2 separate regions of the Homo sapiens genome follow, and region 2 is linked to region 1. A link means that fine-mapping ties the variant in region 1 to the expression of a gene that starts in the linked region. Tissue or cell type: nucleus accumbens. Region 1 holds a variant in brackets; the other region holds the start of a gene. All regions are shown on one strand. Distances are from middle to middle.

What was found. PIP is the estimated chance that this variant, and not a neighbour inherited with it, causes the effect.
Region 2: SLC13A3 starts here. The variant in region 1 is the best candidate, but not a certain one, in a credible set for the expression of SLC13A3 in nucleus accumbens (GTEx, PIP 0.72).

The regions. Positions count from the first base shown.
Region 1 is chr20:46,542,608-46,553,714 of GRCh38, reverse strand. OCSTAMP (osteoclast stimulatory transmembrane protein) reads left to right here and starts at 3,061. Exons shown (of 3, transcript NM_080721.3): 1 at 3,061-3,198; 2 at 7,386-8,388. The coding sequence starts at 3,155. RefSeq lists enhancers at 402-601, 8,628-8,697, 7,904-8,755. The variant A/T (reference allele first, on the strand shown) is at 6,897.
Region 2 is chr20:46,645,462-46,656,568 of GRCh38, reverse strand. SLC13A3 (solute carrier family 13 member 3) reads left to right here and starts at 5,110. Exons shown (of 13, transcript NM_022829.6): 1 at 5,110-5,258. The coding sequence starts at 5,148.

The DNA of each region.
Region 1 (11,107 bases):
GATGAGACTAACATTTGAATCAGTGGACTTTGAGTAGGGTTACCAGAAAAGTTTAAATTATGCATACGGTTCGAGTTGGTGGCTCACATACTGTTGCTATTGGATAGCACCAGCAATATAGGAAGATTTTGGCTGCTTCTCTGTATTCTCAAACTATCTGGACAGTGGCAACGTTGAAGAAGGCTAAAGAATTCAGTGACTCTAATTATTCTGTGCAGCTGGGCACAGTAGCTCACGCCTGTAATCCCAGCGCTTTGGGAGGCTGAGGTGGGCAGATTACTTGAGCCTAGGAGTTTGAGACCATCCTGGGCAACAAGGCAAAAGTCCATCTCTACTGAAAATAATACTCTATGGGTCTCTGATTCTGATCCCAGACCAGGCTCTCCAGGAAGATCTGAAGGCTTACCTCTTCCTCTTCCTCTTCTGTCTTATGGCTCTGAATCCTCCACCCACAAATTCCCCTCAACAAAGCTGATTCTATTTTTGATGATTCAGAAGCCCCTTCCGGATGTTGTGGGCCTTGAGGTCAGGCCAGCCTTATATAGACAGAGGTAACTGCCTACATGTACCGAGAAAAGCCAAAAATATATTTTGCCTGTTCACTCCCTATGCCCCCATGCTCCCAAATCTTACATATCCACCAGAGGCCTTCCGGAAACAAACTGCCTGGTCCTTATCCAACCAGCTCCCTAGTGCCTGTGCAGAAACTGGGCAAATGCTGGTGGCTGGCTTCTAGGACTCTTTCTGTCTGACCAGCACAATGCCCTGAAGTTTGCTATGTGATGGGATCCAGGCCAGGGTGGCCTGGTGAGCATCAGAAGTCTCAACAATCAGATGTGAGCAGACAGGGGCTCACTTGGCAGAACTGTCATCCCAGGTAGGAGGAAACAGGGCATGAGCATTTACCTATTGTTTACTGAACACTCTATATGCATTATCTCATTGAATCCTCAAACAGTCCTTAAAGTAGGTACTGTATTACCCTCATTATAGCAGAGGATGCACAACTTCAGAGAGGGACAGTGTCTTGCCCAAGGTCACACAGCACAGTAAGTGGTAAAGCTGGCATTTGAGTTCAGGTCTGCTGCCTCCAGTCCAGGGCCCCTGCAGTTTGGGGGGAATAGCTAGACATCTCCTTGCAGCCAGACAGCTAACAGCAGGCCTGACTAAGGCCTCCTGCGGAAGGTGAAAATTGATGCTCCTCATGCTGGCTTTGGCCCATAGACCTGTTAAGATTGGTCTGCATGGTAGTCTTTCATTTAAAAAAAAAAAAGCTGACATTTACATTAAAAAGAGAATGACTGGCGTCTTTAGAAAAGCTGGAAAATCTGGTCATGGTGGGCCTCGTTTTCAAGGGGCTTTGACCCTCAACTGGAGATGAATAACAGCTGACCAGACAGGAGGGAGTGGGGGGGGCTACACTTTGTAGCTCACTGCTATTTGCATTCATCCTGCTTTGTTCATGAGCTAAGCAGCGTGGCCCCTGTGGGTACACAAGTTTGCTGCTGCTAGTCTGCCTCATGTACTTAGTTCTTTGCAGACCTGGTAGCTGGCCTAACATCCTGCAGGGGTGCACTGTCTGGGAAGTGTGTTAGGCCCTCTGAGGGTTCTGGCCACAGGTATTCCATTCAATCGCTGTGTAACTATAAGAACGTCACTTCCCCTATCCAGGCCGCAGGACATTCCCCTTCAGGCCTGAGAGTGACCCAGGCAACATGTCCTTATAAGGGAAAGTGGCTGTGCCCCTACTGGTCCATCCCACAGAGGGGGAGCCTGGGGGGCTCAGGGGAGGCCTGCTGGGAGTGATGGGGTACAGAGATGCTGGAGAGGTGTCTGCATTCCAGGTAGGAACTGGCTTTCAGGACAGCCTGAAAGCAGACCTGCAGGGCACTAACTGCAGAGGGTGTGCGTGGGGAATTTACATTATTGAGTACCTACTATTTGCAGTACCAGCTGTACTATGAAGTAATCACGAGGTCTGTGAATTATCCCCTCCACAGCAGCAGAGCCCAGTGGCTAACTGGTATACCCTGAAGCCAGCCCGCTGGTTAGAAATCACGGCAGTACCATTAATAGCTGAGTGGCGTGGTTGGCGACGTAGCTCTCTGAGTCTCAGTTTTCTGAGCTGAAGAATGAAAATAACATCTTTACCATAAAGGGATGTTCAAAGTAAGTGTTCAGTGAATTTGAAGAGAAATTGTTTAGAAGAATGCCTGATACATAGTAAGTGCTCAATAAATGTTAACTGTTATTTTCATTAACTATTTTTTTTTGAGACGGAGTCTCGCTCTGTGCCCAGGCTGGAGTGCAGTGACGTGATCTCAGCTCACTGCAACCTTGTCTCCTAGGTTCAAGTGATTCTCCTGCCTCAGCCTCCCGAGTATCTGGAACTACAGGTATGCACCACCACAAACCAGATAATTTTTGTATTTTTAGTAGAGACAGGGTTTCACCATGTTGGTCAGGCTGATCTCAAACTCCTGACCTCAGGTGATCCACCCCCCTCAGCCTCCCAGAGTGCTGGGATTACAGATGTGAGCCACTGTGCCCAGCCTCATTAAACTTTTTTTAAGGGGAGAAAACCAGCAGAGAGATATGAGGTCACCTGCCCAAGGTCTCATAGCTAGGGAGGGACAGAGCTGAGATTTGAAGCGAGGTACAAGTCAGGCTAAAGACAGGAAGGGGGCTGGGGAAGGAGACCAGAGCCACTGCTCCCAGTACTTGGCAGGGGTCTGATTATCACCTGTGAGTCCCAAGAGCAGGGATCAGGCTCCCCTTGGGGCACACAACTATGGAGTGGGAGGGAAAGGGAAGCTGTATGGTTTCTCTGTGCCTCAGTTTCCTTCTCTGTAAAATGGGGCTAATTCTACCTTCCTGCTACCAAGATTAGAGACATCGCTTGGAAAAGGCTGTCTTTTCCTCTTCCCACACCTTCCACCCGCTCTTGCTTGTGGGCAGAGGATGAGGCAGCTTGCCCAACCCTCTGGGAGGTGGGCCCCGAAAAGGGCGGGACAAGGCAGCCAGGAGAGCTTCATTAAAGAGTGGAAAAGCAGAAGTGGCAGGGATTCCCAAGTCCCAGCGATTCCCCCACTTCCTCTCCACCTGCCACAGCTGCCAGCGACCGCCCGCCTGAAACCACTGCCATTTGGACAGCATGCCAGGCCACCCAGGAGCAGCTGAGCAACTTGTCAAGACCGGGTAGGTCTGGGGACTTTGGACACTGAGGGCTACAGGTGAGAAAACAGTCAGCCATTGGGGGTGATGGATATGAACCCAAATCTTCAGCTCTGCCATTCCTTGGCTATGTGACCTTAGGCAAATCCTCAGTTCTCTGTGAGCCTCAGTTCCCCATCTGTGAAATGGAAGTAATAATGACATCTACAAGACTGTTGCCAGAATTGAATGAGAAAACACATGCTTAGTACTTGGCACCTGCTTGGCTCAGAGGAAGCACTCACTAAACAGCAGCTAGTTTCCTTGCCATTTTCAATACCCCGTGCAGGAATTGTCATCCAATATGACTTAGGACTGGCTTTCAATCCTTAAAATTGTTTTTATTATTAGCTATTATTCCAAAAGCTACTGTGTTCCAAATATTAATTATATAGTAGAAGGGGGTGTTTAGTCCCAAATTCAAATGCCTTCGGGAGCTGGGAAGGGGTTGCACCTGTGGAAGGCCACCTGGGTGTGCAGACGGACCCGTTCATTGATCAGCAGGATGCAGTCTGCAGGGCTGCTCCCCTGTCAAAGGTGGGTAGTGGATACTCAGCTCCAGCTACCTGTTGCAAAGGTGGGAGCTCTAACCCAGATCTTCTTATCTCTCAAGAAAAGCTGGAAACCCAGATTTTAATGTGAAACTTCCTTATTTCCAAATGGGGGCAGCTTACACACACACACACACACACAGAGTGGGCCACAATAAGGCACATTTGCATATGATTCAGCCTTTAGGGCTTCAAGGTTGTGACCTTCACTCCAGCCCCACAGGCCTCACTGCATCTCAGCTTCCCACTGTTCTGGTTCTCCCAACTCCCTATTTCCCGATGGTCAGAGCACAGGACCTTTGCACACGCTGTTCCTTCTGTCAGGGATGTCCAACTCCCTTCTTCACCCACAAACTGACACTTGTCCTTCCACCCCCAGCTGGAATGTCACCTCTTCCAGGGAGCCTTCCTGACTCCCAGGTAAAACTGGGTCACTCTCCATCTATCCCACCCCAGTCCAGGCCCAGGCATACTATGCTCAGAATTCTTTGTTAATGAACTTAAACTCTAATGGTCTATTTAAGTCTCCTCAATTAGACTGTGAACTCCTTTAGTGGGACCAGGACTTAATTCATCTTTGTGTCCACAGGGGTCAGCACAGAGCCTGGGCACAGAGGAGACTCGAGTGAAACATTTACATCGTTGACATAAGTATCATCAGAGTAACAAGTGGTGCAGTTTTATAGGATCCCTCTTCTGTGCCAGACCCTGTGTAAACTTCTTTACATGGATTATTTCATTTTATTGTCCCAGAAGCCCTGTGACAAAGGTTTCTGTATTAGTCAGGACTCATTGAGTTGCAAGTGACAGATTGATCTTACACTGCCTGTAGAAAAACAGACATCTCCTAGTGTGTGGTCCGGCATAGATTTCGGCTTCAGGCATTTCTGGATCCAGGTCCTCCAACAAGGCCACTGGGACTCTCTGTCTGTTTCCTAACACTGTTTTCCTTGTGTTGCCTTCATCCCAGGCCGACTCATACTACATGGTGGTCCCCAAGGCTTGAGGCATCTTCCTACCAGCTTAGCTCTCAAGGCAACAAAGGGCAGTTTTTTTGTCGTTGCAGCAAAATCCTGAGGAAAGCTCTATTGGTCCATCTCCGGTCAGGTGCAATCCCTGCACCAGTCACGGTGGCCAGGGGATCAGAGGTACTTGGATCAACTAGACCCAGTCACATGCTTATCCTTCAAGCTGTTGATGGTGGAGCAAGTCAGCAGCTTTGCCTGTAACCAACACAGTGACAGCCTCCCCACCACCCTCCCTGCCCTTTATAACCATATTCCCGTATAACCTTTCTGCCTGCTCTCACTTAAGATAATGTATGATCTCCAACCTCAAGTGGGCCTCAGTGTTGCCCAGCACATATGTTATTGCCCCAGTTCGTTTGTTCTCCCACTTTCCTGGGCAACCATTTTGTACTTTCTTCTTCCTCTTCAAGCATCCATCACCTCCGCCAGCATCTTACCTTCTCTGCTGACCTTGCTTCCTGCCAACCTGAGCAAACAGAAGCAATCGGTCATGCTACTCTTAATGAATAGTTTTGGAGCACTCACAACATGGCAGACACTATTGTAGGCACTTGGGACATATCAGTGACCAAAACGGACAAAGTCCCTGCTCCGGTGGAGTTGACTCTAGTGGTAGGTAATAGCTGATGTGATACTTACCATGTGCCAGAAACAAAGTGACCCCAGGAGGTGCATACTTTTATTGCACCATTTTACAGATGAGACAGCTGAGACACAGAAAGGTTGTGATATGTACCCAAGTTCACATAGCTGGCAAGTGGTGGAGCAGAAATTTGAGCCCAGGCAGTCCAGAGGTCATGCCCTTAACATTACTCTGCTCTGCGTATATCAGAGGATACTTTTCACAGGTGCATACACGCTGCCTGTTCATTCGCCATCATCTGTACCTATTTCCTCTGCTTTCCCACCTGCTATTAAGGATGAACGACCCCTGCTCTATTCTAAGACCAGCCCCACCTTGCATGTTCTCAGTCTCACTCTCTGCCTCCACCCCTACAGGTGTCACTCCAGGGAGTCTCCCCTTTGTCAATGTCTCCCCTCTCGATGAGATCTCCCACCTGCAAACATGCTATAGATTTCCTCCCTTTACATGAATTCTCTTGGTCCAATTTCCCATAGCTACCAGCCACTGCTTCATCTCCCTGCTGTTTTAGTGTAGAAATTACCGGAAAGAGTTGTCTGTATCTGTGTTTCCTATTCTTCTCCTTCCCGTCTCTCCTGGACCCAGTCTAGTTGGATTTTGGCCCCAAAAGCCACCGAACTCTCCCTGCCAAGGTCAACAGTGACCTCTAAGCGGCTAATAGGCATTGCTCAGTCCTCATCATTCTTGACCTGTTGGCTGCATTTGACGTACTTGATCACTCCTTTCTCCTTGAAACATTTTGTTTATTTGGCTTCCTAAGCACCACATTGGTTTCTCAGTCTCTTTTGCTGGTTCCTCCTTATCTAAGAGCCCCTAACCTTGGAGCGCCTTGAGGCATGTCCTTGGATGTCTTTCCTCCCCAGTGACACACTCTCTTGAGGAATCTCATGGTGCACATGGCTTTAGGTAGGGATATAAAGTTGGGAGACATCTAATAATCAGACTCCCAATGTTATAACTCCAGCCTGACCTCCCCTCTGAATTCCTGACTTCTATTTCCAACCACGTCGTCAAAAGCTCCACGGAATGGCTCAACTGAATCTCAAATTTAAGAGTTCTGAACTGAATTCCTCCTCTCTCCCCCTCCACTCAAACCTGTTTTGACCACAGAGTTCTCATCTCAGGAAATGACACCTTGGTGCTTCCAGTTGCTCAGACACAAAAGCACCTCGTCATCCTTGACTCCCCTCTTTCTCTCACACCCCACAACCAATCAGCCTCTGCAAATCTTGTTGACTCTGCCAACAAAATGTGTTCAGAATCCAAGCTTTCCTTACTACTCCTCTGCCATCGCTCTTAACATAGTGCAAGCCCCACGAAGGTAGGGACTTCTGTTTTTTTCATTCCTGTTTCTCCAATGGTTAACACAAAGTCGTTGCTTGATAAACACTTGTTGAATGAATAAATATAAGGATGATAGAATATAAAAGTCCCTCACAGGCCAACTAGTTCACCCTCCTC[A/T]CCCCTAAATTATAGAGGAGACCCTGAAGTTCAGAAAGAATAGAAGGTCCAGAATCATACAGCAAGCCACCAAGACTATTAATTCAAGTGAAATCGTTTCTCTTCTTCTCTCTCCTCTTACTCATTCTCTCTCTTTCACCTGTGCTTCTCGCTCCATGACTCTTTCATTCTCTTGGGCCAGTTGCCTTCACAAAACTGTAATAATGGACTCAAACAGGGCAGACTTTCATCCTCACATCCTCAGGTACTGCATGGGAATTGGGCTCTTCCCTGACAGTTCCAGCGAGAGTAATCCTGGGGAAGGCTCTGATTGGTTCAGCTTGTGTCACGTGGGTATACAGTGACTTACTCTGATTGGTCCACCTGGGTAACTACAAGGGTGGAGTCTGTTAGCAGAGCCTGGTGATGGGTATGTGGGGCAGGGGCAGTGGACAGACACCCACCCACCCACCTCCTGATAGAGATGCCCTTCAATTTCCTTGTGTGCAGGTGGAGGTCCTGGCACTTGGGGTTCTGGAAGGCCCTTGCCCCACTGCAGGCTGCCTGGGACGCCTTCTCCCAGCCTGTTCCAGCCAGCTGTGGCCAGCTGCTGACCCAGCTCCTCCTGTGTGCCTCCCTGGCTGCTGCTGCTGCAGGTCTGGTTTATCACTGGCTGGCATCCTTGCTGCTTTATCCTCCTGGACCTTCAGCCATGGTTGCCACTGTCTGTGGCCTCCTGGTCTTCCTGAGCCTGGGCCTGGTACCCCCAGTCCGCTGCCTGTTTGCACTCAGCGTGCCCACCCTGGGTATGGAGCAGGGCCGCCGGCTGCTCCTGTCCTACAGCACTGCCACCCTGGCCATTGCTGTGGTGCCCAACGTCCTGGCCAACGTGGGTGCGGCCGGGCAGGTGCTGAGGTGTGTCACCGAGGGCTCCCTGGAGAGTCTCCTCAATACCACTCACCAGCTGCATGCAGCATCCAGGGCTCTGGGCCCCACAGGCCAGGCAGGCAGCCGGGGCCTGACATTTGAGGCCCAGGACAATGGCTCTGCCTTCTACCTTCACATGCTCAGGGTCACTCAGCAGGTCCTGGAGGATTTCTCTGGCCTGGAGTCCCTGGCCCGGGCAGCAGCGCTAGGGACCCAGCGAGTGGTCACAGGGCTGTTTATGTTGGGCCTCCTGGTGGAGTCGGCATGGTACCTCCATTGCTACCTGACAGACCTGCGGTTTGACAATATCTACGCCACTCAACAGCTGACCCAGCGGTTGGCACAGGCCCAGGCTACACACCTCCTGGCCCCTCCACCCACCTGGCTGCTCCAGGCGGCTCAGCTGAGGCTGTCACAGGAGGAGCTGTTGAGTTGTCTTCTAAGGCTGGGGCTGCTTGCCCTGCTCCTCGTGGCCACGGCTGTGGCGGTGGCCACAGACCATGTAGCCTTCCTCCTGGCACAGGCTACTGTGGACTGGGCTCAGAAGTTGCCAACTGTGCCCATCACGCTCACGGTCAAGTATGATGTAAGTGTGATGATGGGAAAAGGGAAGGGAGTCATTGTTTTGAGGGCAGGGGGAGAATCTGTTAAACCCTTGACTTGTGATGAAATTTGACTTGCCTCCAAGAAACAGCCCTTGAATCATCCATGGGGCCCCATACCATGGGCAGAGGGACTCATCGGATACCCACAACAGCTCTAGGAAGTGGTTTCTATTTTCACTTCCTATTGCAGTTGAGGATGCTGAAACCCAGACACCTTAAAATAACTTGCATCCAAGGTCACCCTTCACAAGTGGCAGCTTGTCCTAGCCTCATTTTCCACATTTGTACAAATTGAATCGATCCTCCTAATCCTAAAAGGCTATTGTGTCTTACAATGTGGTATTGTCTTAAAGTACCTAGTAAGCTCCATGGCACATAAGAGATTATTTAATAAAGAGTGGCTATTATTAATAGCTTACATCTGTCTATGTCAGACTGGAGGAGGACTTTGGAATGGCCTTGATCAGGAGGCATCCAACTATAGCCTTCAGGACAAATCCAATGGCTTCTTGGTTTTGTAAATAAAGCTTTTTTAGAACACAGCCATGCCATTTGTCAATATATTGTCTGTGGCTGCCCTACAAAGGCAAAGTTGAGTAATTGCAACAGAGACTGTATGTCCTGCAAAGCCTGAAATATTTGCTATTTTAATAGTGATATAGAAAATATTTACTATCGACTTATAATCGGATATATTACTATCAGATCAAGAGTTGTGTTTTTCGATCCTTTCTTTTGCCACGGATCTTTTTATTTTTAATTTTTAGTAGTGAGGTCTCACACAAAAGTCCATTGCATAAAACATATCAAAGTGTCAAACTTCGAGCTAATAATATTAACAGTTTATATTTATCAAGTACTTATTACATATTAAGAAAGTGCTTTTCAGACTGCACAAAATCAATTTAATCAATTTAAGGAGTCATAAATAGTGTTTTTAATGAAATAGAATCAACTGGAAAATTATAAGATTACATCTTAGGCAATAAGGGAGTGTATGGTTTTTGAATATTTTCTTCAATTACAAAACAATCTCTGCTTTGAAGGTACTGTAAAATGCATTTCTTTTCTTTCCTTTTTTGAGACAGGGTTTCACTCTGTTGCCCATGCCAGAATGCAGTGGTGCAGTGGTGCAATCACAGCTCACTGTAACCTTGACCTCCTGGCTCAAACGAGCCTCCCACTTCACCTACCTCTGCCTTCCAAGTAGCTGAGACTACAGGCATGCACCACCACCACCCAGTTAATTTTTAATATTTTTTTTAGAGATGGTGTCCCACTATGTGGCTCAGGCTGGTCTCAGACTCCTGGGCTCAAGCATTCCTCTCACCTCAGCCTCCCAAAGTGTTGGGATTACAGGCATAAGCCACCATGCCTGGCCTGTAAAATGCATTTCTTACCATAGGTCACAGTAAAGAAATGTGTCAGGCAATGTTCTAAGCATGTTCCCTGATTTACTCATTTTCACCAAATCTCAGATAGTCATCAATTGCAAGTCACACCATTACTTTATGTATCCTTAGGGCAGAAAATGCTACCAATTCAACCTTGACACAATGCTTTCTTATCATTTAGAATTTTTATTGTATTTGTATAAAATAGTTCACTTATTATTTAACATAGGTTTATTTTGCCATATCTTTCTCGCGTATACATAAAAAGAAAAATAGGGGGCTGGGCATGGAGGCTCATGCCTATCTATAATCCCAGCACTTTGGGAGGCCGAGGTGGGTGGATCACCTGAGGTCAGGAGTTCAAGACCAGCCTGGCCAACAACATGGTGAAACCCCATCTCTACTGAAAATACAAAAATTAGCCAGGCATGGTGGTGTGTGCCTGTAATCCCAGCTACTCAGGAGGCTGAGGTGAGATAATCGCTTGAACCTGGGAGGCAAAGTTTGCAGTGAATTGAGATTGCTCCACTGCACTCCAACCTGAGCCAGCAAGACTCCAAAAAAAAAAAAAGGAAGAAACGAAGAAAGAAAGAAAGAAAGAAAGAAAGGAAAGAGAAAGAGAGAAAGAAAGAGAAAGAGAGAAAGAAAAGAAAGAAGGAAAGAAAGAAAGAAAGAAAGAAAAAGAAAGGAAGGAAGGAAGAAAGAAAAAAGGAAGGAATGAGAGAGAGAGGGAGGGACGAAGGAAGGAAGGGAGGAAGGAAGGAAGGGAGGGAGGGGAAGTAATCTGATGGTTTTCCTAAAACATTCAATCTGACTTTTCTGAATGACTCTGGCCGAGGAGTCAGTCTCTGAGGCTTTTCCTCCAATATCATTCTCTGTGCCTTCCAGAGCCCCGGTGATGCCCCACCATTGTTTCCAGCATTTTCTTGCAAGCTGCGGGCCCTCACTCAGCAAGTTTTGAGGCTGGCACTCTCTGATCCTCTGGGAAAGCATAAATTGTACAGGCCCACTCATTGCTTTCACATTATTTCATCTTTTCTGAAAGCTTTGGGAGTTTCTCCTGCATTCATTTGAACCATTTGGGGTGTGGCAAGCTATCCTTCTGCACCTGGGTTAGTGCAGAATCCAACCCAGGTTGGTTCCAAAGTTCAAATGGTGAACTTCTTTCTTCCCTGCCTCTCTAGATACCATTCTTCCTCACCTGGACATACCTATGGAAACTGCAGGGCCCAGTGCTTATAAGCAGGACATAGGGACCCACCTTGGCTGAGACTGATCCCTGAGTTGGCAACATGTAACCCATGTG
Region 2 (11,107 bases), 100 kb before region 1:
TATATATCATATACAGTATAATATATGTACTGTATAGTATATATCATATACAGTATAATATATACTGTATAGTATATCATATACAGTATAATATATACTGTATAGTATATCATATACAGTATAATATATACTGTATAGTATATCATATACAGTATAATATATACTGTATAGTATATCATATACAGTATAATATATACTGTATAGTATATCATATACAGTATAATATATACTGTATAGTATATCATATACAGTATAATATATACTGTATAGTATATTATATACAGTATAATATATACTGTACAGTCTATATAAGTATACAGTATAATATATACTGTACAGTCTACATCACATACAGTATTATATATACTGTGCAGTCTATATTATATACAATATAATACAGACTGTACAGTCTATTACATACAGTATAATATAGACTGTGTGGTATATTATATACAGTATAATATAGACTGTACAGTATATATAATATATATGTATATATAGTATACTGTAGTATATGTATATATAGTATACTGTAGTATATGTATATATACTGTATATATAGTATATGTAGTATACATATATACATATATACATACATATATACATATATGTATACTGTATATATATACTGTAGTATATTATATACGTATATATAATATACTGTACAGTATATATATTATATACAGTATAATATATACTGTACAGTATATATATTATATACAGTATAATATATACTGTATAGTATATATAGTATATACAGTATTATATATTATATATACTGAAGGCATATATATACTATTTTCTTTTGTATAAAATATATATATAGTATATATATATTATTTTCTTTTGTATAAAAGCAGGGACTCAGACAGATACTCTTTGTACACCCATGTTTATAGCTGCATTACTCACAATAGCCGAAAGGTAGAAACAACCCAATGTCTATCAACAAATGAATGGATAAACATGATATGGTATATCCATACAATGGAATATTATTGTGTAGTATATCTGTATTTTTGTATAGTATATATAATATATACTATATAAAAATATATATTATATATATACCACACACACACACATATATATACATGTTGGCTCTCTGAGGCCTCCCCAGAAGCCGAGCAGATGCCAGCACCATGCTTCCTGTAAAGCCTGCATAACCATGAGCTAATTAAACCTCTTTTGGCTTATATATACATATATGTATATTTGGTATATATATATATGAATGAACATATCTATGTGTATATATGTGTGTGTATATATGTGTATATATGTGTATATATGTGTATACATATGTGTATATACGTGTGTATATATATGTGTATATATGTATGTGTATATTATAAATCTACAGACCCAAGAAGCTGAGTGAACTCCAAATATTGCTAGGGTAAACCAAGGAAATCCACACCAAGACATATCATGGCCAAACTTCTCAAAACATAAGACAAAAAAAAGAAATCTTGGAAAATATTTATTCAAGAGAAAGAGAAATGAACCTTACCTATGGAGAAGAAATAACTCAAATGATATCAGATTTTTCACCAGAGACCATGGAGGCCAGAAAGTAGGTGCATAGCATTTCTCAAGTGCTCAAAGAAAATAACAGAATTCTATGTCCACCAAAAATAAGAACCAAGGGGAAATCAAGACCTTCTCAGATGTTGGAAAACTAAGAGAATTTGTTGCCTGCAGACCTGGTCTCAAAGAATGATTAAAGGAAGTTCTTGGCCAGGCATGGTGGCTCATGCCTATAATCCCAACAATTTGTGTTGCCTAGGCCGGTGGATCACCTGAGGTCAAGAGTTTGAGACCAGCCTGGCCAACATGGTGTAAACCCGTCTCTACTAAAAATACAAAAAATTAGCCGGGTGTGATGGTGGGTGCCTGTAATCCCAGCTACTCAGGAGGCTGAGGCAGGAGAATCACTTGAACCTGGAAGGCGGAGGTTGCAGTGAGCTGAGATGGCGCCATTGCACTCTAGTCTGGGCAACAAGAGCAAAACTCCATGTCAACAAGAAAAAAAAATTATACCTGATAGCTGAAGGAAAAGTTAAAACACTGATGTGGTTCTAAATGTATGTAGAGAAAATATTGAAAGAAGTATTTTAAACTGGGTAAGGCAAAGGGGCATGAAGTAAGGTTTCTATGCTTTGCTGGAATTGGTTAAATGGCAATACCAGTGGATTATAACTTATAAGTTATGTACATGCAATGTAATACCTAGAGCAATTACTGAAAAAAGCCATGCAAGTGACAAAAACCAAAATGCTAAAAAAATGGACCAAGGCCCTGGATAGACATTTCTCCAAACAAGATACGCAGATGGCCAATAAACACATGGAAAGATGTTCAACATCAATAATCATTAGAGAAACGCACATCAGAATCACAGTGGGATACCACTTCACACCTATTAGGATGGCTATTATTTAAAAAAATCACAGAAAATAAGTGTTGGTGAGGATGTGGTGAAACTGGAACCCTTGCACATCGTGGGAATGTAAAATAGTGCAGCCTCTGTGAAAAACAGTATGGCCATTTCTCAATAATAATTTTCAAAAAGCGCAGAATTACCTTATGATCCAGCAGTTCCACTTCTGGGTATATACCCAGAACTGAAAGCAGGGACTCAGACAGATACTCTTTGTACACCTATGTTTATAGCTGCATTACTCACAATAGCCAAACGGTAGAAACAACCCAATGTCTATCAACAAATGAATGGATAAACACGATATAGTATATCCATACAATGGAATATTATTCAGCCTTAAAAAGGAATTATGACACATGCTACAACATGGGTGAGCCTTAAGGACACAAAGCTAATCACAAAAGGATAAATATTCCATGATACCGCTTGTATGAGCTATCCAGATTAATCAAATTTATAGAGACAGAAAGCAGAATGATGGTTTCCAGAGGCTGTGGGAGGAGAGAATGAAGTTATTTTGTAATGAATACAGTGTTTCAAAACTGTAAAACTTCTGACAAGCTTGTCCAACCTGCCTTATTTTGTTGTTGTTCTTTTTTTGTTTGTTTGTTTGTTTTAAGCTTTTAGCAGCCTGAAGCCATGGTTTTTAGTTTCTGTCTCTAGTGATGAGTGGAAAAGAGGGATGAGGAAGGGGCTTTACTGGCCCAACCAGAAACAGAAACTAAGAACCCATGACTGTATTCTCTTCCTTGGACACTTCTGTGAGAACAAAGCAAACTAAACATACGAGAAACTCTTTGGGGTCTAAGGCTATGCAGAGAGCTTAACCCGATCATCCAAAGGAAAAATTTGATAAATTTAACTACATCAAAATTAGAAATGTTTGCTTGGTGATATATAGTTAAGAGGCTGAAAAGACAAGCTACAGACGGGGAGAAATATTTGCAAACAGCGTAACTGGCAAAGAACTGACATCTAGAATTTGCAAAGAACTTTCAAAACTCAACTGTAAAAAACCAAATAATACAAGTAGAAAACAGGCAAATGACAGGAAAAGATAGTTCACCAAAGAGGATATAGAGATGGCAAATTAGCATGTGAAAAGATGTTAAACATCACTAGCCATTAGGGAAATAGAAATTAAAACCACAATGAGCTATTACTATGTCCCTGTCAGAATGGTTAAAATAAAATAAACAGTGACAACACCAAATGTTGGCAAAGATGTGGAGAAACTGGATGATTCATACATTGTTGATGGAAGTGCAAAATAGTACAATCACTTTGGAAGACAGGTTGACAGTGTCTTAAAAAGCTAAGCATTGCAAATACTGGGCAACCCAACAGTTGCACTCCTGTATGGTTACCTGAGAATAATCAGAAGTGAATAGAAGTGACTCACCCCCCTTAAAAAAAAATAAGAATAACGGCCGGGCGTGGTGACGCACACCTGTAATCCCAGAACTTTGGGAGGCCCGAGATGGGCGGATCATGAGGCCAGGAGTTCGAGACCAGCCTGGCCAAAATGGTGAAACCCCATCTCTACTAAAAATACAAAAAAAAAAAAAAAAAAAATTAGCCAGATATGGTGGCACACGCCTGTAATCCCAGCTACTCAGAAGAATTGCTTGAACCCGGGAGGCAGAGGTTGCAGTGATCCGAGATCGCTCCACTGCTCCCCAGCCCAGCCTGGGTTACAGAGTGAGACTACATCTCAAAAAAAAGAAAAAAAAACCCAAAAATAAGAATAACTCATCAGCAGCAATAACTCTCATTGAGCACCTGCTCTGCCAGACACTGCGCTAATCACATTACATGTGTTATCTCATTTAAACTTCCTAACAACCTTCTTGTCTGGTGTAGACTATTTTTAAAAATTTAACTTTTAAGTTCAGGGGTACATGTGCAGATTTGTTGTATAGGTAAACTTGTGTCATGGGGATTTGTTGCACAGATTATTTCGTCATCCAGGTATTAAGCCTAGTGCCCATTAGTTATTTTTCCTGATCCTCTGTCTCCTCCCACCCTCCAGCCTCCCATAGGCTTCAGTGTCAGTTGTTCCCCTCTATGTGTCCATGTGTTCTCATCATTTAGCTCCCGCTTATAAGTGAAAACATGCGGCATTTGGTTTTCTGTTCCTGTGTTAGTTTGCTAAGGATAATGGCCTCCAGCTCCATCCATGTTCCCGCAAAAAACATGATGTCCTTCTTTTTTGTGACTGCATAGTATTCCATGGTGTAGACTATTATTATCACCACTCCACTTTCAGGCTCAGAGGCTGTTGTTGAAGGCCACGCAGTGAGTAAGTGGCCGTGCCAGGATTTGAACCCGGGTAATAGGAGTACGCGCCTTAATCCTCGCCTTGTCATCCTCAGCCATCTCACAGGCGAGTAAACAGAGGCGAGGAGAGGATAAGCCAGCTGCCCCAGGCCACATTGCTGGGAAGCCAAGAGGCAAGGCCACACTGCCCTGCGGCTGGGGTCCCGTTTGCTAATTCTAGTGCCTAACTTTCTCCAACGTTCCCGGGCCTCTTTCACCCGGTCCCAGGGGCGCAGGCACCACCCTTTTCCTCCAGGAGGAGCAGGGAGAGGGCGGGTTCCCCAGCGCAGTCCCCTCCCCGACCCTCCCCCAGGCTTTAAGCCGGCGCCGGGGCCAGGCGGGGCAGTCCCGGGCCGGCCCGTACCGCCAGGCGATCGCGCTGATGGCGGCGCTGGCAGCAGCGGCCAAGAAGGTGTGGAGCGCGCGGCGGCTGCTGGTGCTGCTGTTCACGCCGCTCGCGCTGCTGCCGGTGGTCTTCGCCCTCCCGCCCAAGGTAACGCCTCCTCCGCCTGTGCGCCCCCGGTCAACCACAGGCGGGATCCTCTTCTCCCAAGCCTCCAAGTTGGGAGACCGCTGAGGTCCCAGTGTAGACAGGCTCCACCAGACCCCCTCGCCTTCCCTCCCTTGCACCTGCCGCGGACCGCTGTGAACGCTCCTAACGCCTCTTCCCTCTTCCCAGCTGCTCCTTAGAGCTTGAGTCCCACCCTGCCTTCTGGATCTCACTTCCATGGGAATAATTTCGTTTCGTTTCAGTGACAGGTTCTCGCCGGTCACCCAGGCTGGAGTGCAGTGATGTGATCATAGCTCACTGCAGCCTCCAACTCCTGGACTTAAGCGATCCTCCTTCCGCAGCCTCCCTAGTGGCTAGAACTACAGGTGCATGCCCAGCTAATTTTTTTTTAATAGAGATAGGGTCTCACTATGTTGTCCAGGCTGGTCTGGAACTCCTGGACTCAAGCAATTCTCCCACCTTGGTCTCCCATATACTGGGATTACAGACGTGAACCACTGTGCCTAGCAGAATTCTTTCTTTCCTGAGCTCTAATTCTGTGCTTGGTGCTGTATTGCACATTTCACGCGACAGTCACAATGAACACTTACTGGGTGCCAAGCTGTGTGACATGGTGCAAGTCACTTAACCTCTCTGAACTTCAGTTTACTCATGTGTAAAAATGGGAGAAATGATAGTGCCCACCCATAGGGCAGCGGTGAATATCAATGAGGCAATATATGTAAATCTCTTATAACTAAACCTTGTACAGAATAAATGCCCAATAAGCAGTGACTGGTCTTTTTCTGCACCAGGTCCTTACGTGATGAGGACGGTAAGATTCATGAGTGCTTACTACGGGTGAGGATTTGCCTTTTGTGTATCACTTTATTTAATCATTTCAACGCGTCTCAGAGGGGAAAGATTATTTGACCCATTTTCCAGAGGAGAAAACCAAGGCTCGGGGAGAGAAAGTGACTTGCTCAGAGTCACACAGCAAGTGACTATGTCGGTATTCAGTCCCCGGCTTGTCAGAATCCAGAACCCTAGCTGTTTTCAGTCTCCCCAAGGAAGTAACCCCTGTAAGATCAAAGGCCGCAGGTGGAGTTCAGGAGTCATAACTGAAATCAACACTAGTGGGGGCTGGAAGGAGATGGTACCACAGGTCCCTTTTGGGTTCTTCACCTGTGCCCTGCCCAGCCCAGCCAGGGCATCATGAGAGGGCACTGGGCTTGTAAGATAAGGCTTCTACCTCCAGGAAGTTGCTTCACCATCTCTCAGTGAGGTATTAAATGTTCACAAAAATAAAAGTAAAGAGGAGGTATAATTTAGTGGTGCATTACCCAGCACCGATCAGCTGAGACCAGGGAGCTTCTCCTGGAAGAAGGAGCCCTCCTTGGGCACATGGAGTAAGAAGGTGACACCAGTGGTTCCAAGGAGACCCAGGGCTAACACACAGCAAGTTCATTAGTGTGGAATTATCTAAGCTATTAGACTTTCTCGACGTGGAAGAGAAAAACACAATAAATGATGGAAGAAGGATGAGGTCACCTTTGCAAAACTCAGCCCACCCCAGGCCACTTTCTGACCTGTGGATCTTAAGATCTTGGACCAATCTCCTTTCCTCTTTGGGTTTTGCTTCCCTGTAAGTGGAGCGATTACACCGCTAGCTTCTGGGATTGATGTGAGAGGTTGAGTAAGGCTTTGTGAAACATCTTTGGTGGAAGTGTGGGTGGCTGAGCCTTGACTGATTGCTGTCTGCGAGGCCATAGGCAGAGCTCTCTGGCAAGAAGAGATAAAACACAAGGTCTCTATTCTCTCAGTAGGGGTCCCGACAGCTTCTCTCTGCTCTGTTCTCTAGCAAGAACATGAACCCAGGAGCAGATCCAAGGGTTAAGGGGCGGGGAGCATTTACTACTTGAGGGGGACTCTTGAAGAAAATGAATACAGATTTACAAATACAGGATTCGGTACGAGGCTTGGGAGAGGTCTGAAGCTTGAGCTTCACAAAGGATCCTCTTCCTATCTGAACTCCAACATGCACAACTGAATGGAAAGCAGGGAGAGATAACAGGGAGAGCCCCTGGGATGTAACTAATCCCTTATGATGGTGCTAAGCCTGATGAAGAAGGTGTTTTATTGAGTGCTTAGCTCTTACCATGTGCTAGGGGCCATGCTAGGAGCTTGTCAGGCTTGTCCCATGTAATGCCCACAACAACCAGAGAGGCAGCTGTTATTTGCATCCCTATTTGACAGGTGAAGAAACGGAAACTCAGCGGGGTTAGGTGACTTGCCTAAGGTTACACAGCTGCTGCAAAGCCAGAATGCAGAGTCTGTACTCCTTTATGTGTGTGTGTGTGTGTGTGTGTGTATGTGTGTGTGTGTGTGTGTGTGTGTGAGAGAGAGAGAGAGATAGGGTCTTGCTCTGTAACACAGGCTGGAGTGCAGTGGCACGATCTTGGCTCACTGCAACCTCCACCTCCCAGGCTTAAGCCATCCTCCTGCCTCAGCCTCCCAAGTAGCTGGGACTATCAGCTCCTGTCACCACACCCGGCTAATTTTTATATTTTTAGTAGAGACGGGGTTTCACTATGTCACCCAGGCTGGTCTCAAACTCCTAGACTCAAGCGATCCACCAGCCTCGGCTACGCAAAGTGCTGGGATTACAGGCAAGAGTCTGTACTTCTTTCTAACTGCTGTGCCTTACATGCTCTTCTTAGTTATAATTCAATACAAACCACCCCTTTGTTCCCTACAGTTCCCTTGTGGGGACCCTTTATATGGCTCTAGATGTCACTGCCTCTTTAAGTGGTTGATGAACCAGGGCCTCCTCCCAGGAGGCAGGCCTGGCTCTTTGGAGGACCTTCGCCTCCCTCAAAATCTCTGTTGGCATACCTGAAGCCTCCTCTCCCATATAACAATATTTATATGATTGTCATTATTAGATTCTCTGACATTAAGAACAGACGTGTTTCTCAATTTCATATACAATGCGAATAAGAAGTATCCTTAGAAAACATCATCATCTTTATTGATCTGGGACACACATTTAATCCATTTCCCATTTAGAAAAAAAAAAAGTGCAGCTCACTGCCAGTGCAGTATTCTCGGTGCAAAACGGGACATGGGTTAAAGCAAGCACAGTAGGTTTGTTATGCACATGGAGCTTCAAGACAATTCTGGTCATCTTCACCAGTCACTCCCTGTGAGAGCCTCCCCAAACAGAGGCTGGTGGACTAACTTCAAAACATGCTTGCTGGGCAATTCAAGACAGGCGTCCTCAGCGTCCACTCCAACATCAGATTGTCACTTCTCAGCCTCTTCCACATGGATATTCTGGCGCCATGAATGCAGGTTGTATTGTATACATGGATCACTAACAACTTGCGAAACTGCAGATATCACATCAGGAAAGAAGTTGGAGATGTTCAGTTATTTGTCATTTACCAGGCAGTGTGGAGTAGGAGACAACCCCTCTTTGGGGCCTGGGTTTCCAGCTTGATGACATCTGTCCACTGCTGCTTTGCTGTTCTAGGAGTCTGTGTGTTAAGAGGGTTGGTTTTCATGCACCTGTTCCTGGTGACTGGTGAGCTTGTCTTCGGGGAGGCTGGAGTCAATCTGCAGAGCAGAGCTGGAAGGAACAATTCTTACATTATGTCCTCTGGCTCAGAAATGCTGTCAGCAGGGATGAAAAGGAGTGGGATGAGCTCTGGAATGCATGGCTGCCGCTTCCAGCACCACTGGGGATCCTAGCTCTTGCTATGAAGAGTGCTGGGGGCTCAGGAAGTTGGGATGCTACCCCAGGGACTACATCAACGTTTTCCAAGAATGGCCATCCTGCGAGTTAGAGGTTTGGGGAGTGATCTTAGCTAGTGGGCACAGATGGGACTCTTATTAATAAAACAGGCTTACAAATAAGCTCCAGCCCCACTTGTTTGCAGAGAAGCCTTACCCCCTTTCCTGCCTTATGCCCCCTGAGAGCAAATTAAATGATACTGACCACCTGTCCAAGAGGAGTTCTTAACACTGGGGACTCACAGGTGACTCTAAAGATGCTCTGAGAAGGAAGAGTTTGGGGATGCTCTCGGCAAGGCTGCTACAGAGTGTTGTGCAAGCTGTGCACTGCACAAGGTGCTTGAGGAGGCAAGTAAGGCTGAACCAGCCTGCATTCCACATGCCAAGCTGTGCACCCTGGTGCACAGCTGGATCCACCTGAGGAAGGGCCTTTTATTCTAATTTGCACAAAGGTGTCACGGTGGCCAACAGCAGACTTACTCTGGGATAGAGATATTTGGGGGGGATGGTAGTACACCTGTAAGGTCAGAGGCCCCCTTTCTTGCATTTGCCTAATTTGTGGGCAGGTAGATGACCAGGAAGATGGTCCTTTCATTCCCAGTTTTGAGGCTTTGGAATCAGAACTGCATTCGCATTCCACATACTTGCTGGGCAAGTCATTTTCTATTTCTGGCCTTGGTTTCTTCATTTATAACACAGCCATAATATTATATTCTTTCCCAGTTATTTTCTGGCCACAGTGAGTTAATACATTGTGCCTGTACTATAAATTCTTAGTTTTTTATTTAATGCTGAAAATATGTTTTAGTTCTCCTATTTTGCAGATGATGAAACTGAGGCTCAGAGAAGTTAAATGTTGGAGAGAACATGGGCTTTAGAGTTGAGAAAACCTGGATTTGTGTCTGGCTCTGAAGAGGGGAGCCTGGGCTGGAAACCTTGAATTTCTGAGGCTGAGTCTCATTTGTGAAGTGAGGAGGACTCACACCCTCTCATTCTGTTACGAGAATTAGGGGAAGATACAGGAGGTGTCCAGAGTGGTGCTCAGCATATAGTGGGAGTTTATAATTAGAGCAATAGCCACAGATTTTCTCACATTTACAAAATGCTGTTTTACATGCATCTCAAATTTCAGCTCATTTACTCTTCACATCAGATGTAGGAAGTTCAAACAAAAATTATCCCCATTTTTAGAGATGAGGAAAGTGAGGCACAGAGAGGTTAAATTCCAAGGTCACACAGCTACTAAACACTACTTCGGTCACTCCTCCTCCTTCTCTCTTAGTCCTGGATTTTGGAAGTGAGAGCGGCCAGGAAGTGAGAGAGGCCCTTGAGTTTTCCCCAACAGAGGTTTTCCAGAAAAAAACTGCAAGTCCAGCTCTGCGGATTGAGCACCTTCTCTGGCCAGACACTGCCTGCTGATTTTACCTTCTATCATCTCATTTGAGCCTCAGGGAGCTCAGACAGGGAGTTTTCCCCCATGCACCCCAGAATGGAGTGAATCTGGTTTGGTTTCCATCATCCAAATACCACTCACATCATTTTTGCCAGAGTCCCTTACCACTCAATATTATTTACTTAATTACATTCCTGTTATTCTTTTTACATTAATGTCTTACTGCCCTCTCCTTTTAAAAAAACTTAAATGCAATGACTTTAAAAGGAGATTTTCTGTGGGTATCATGTATGGAAAACCAGGATCATCACTGATGATTAGGAGAAGAAAACTAGCAATTGATAGGTAAATATTTAACGCTGATTAATACTGGGTACATACTGCCTGGTTGAAGCTATGGGCCTGCGATCTGCCCTCTCTTTGTTGCAAGGGGAGGGATATCATCAAGTGAGGCATTAAAGACAAACTAGTACCAAACTGAGACTTTGTTTTGGAAATAATGAGAAGGAAAGAAGGATTAGAAGGGAGGTAACCTCATTGTTCCACCCAAAGTCTTCTGGAGTTGGCTTTTTATGCTTCAAGAAATACTGGACCCATAGCCTGGAAGCGTGTCTTGTCTGGGGATGCTGAGGTTGACTGATAGCCCCAGCTCCTCAATTTCCTC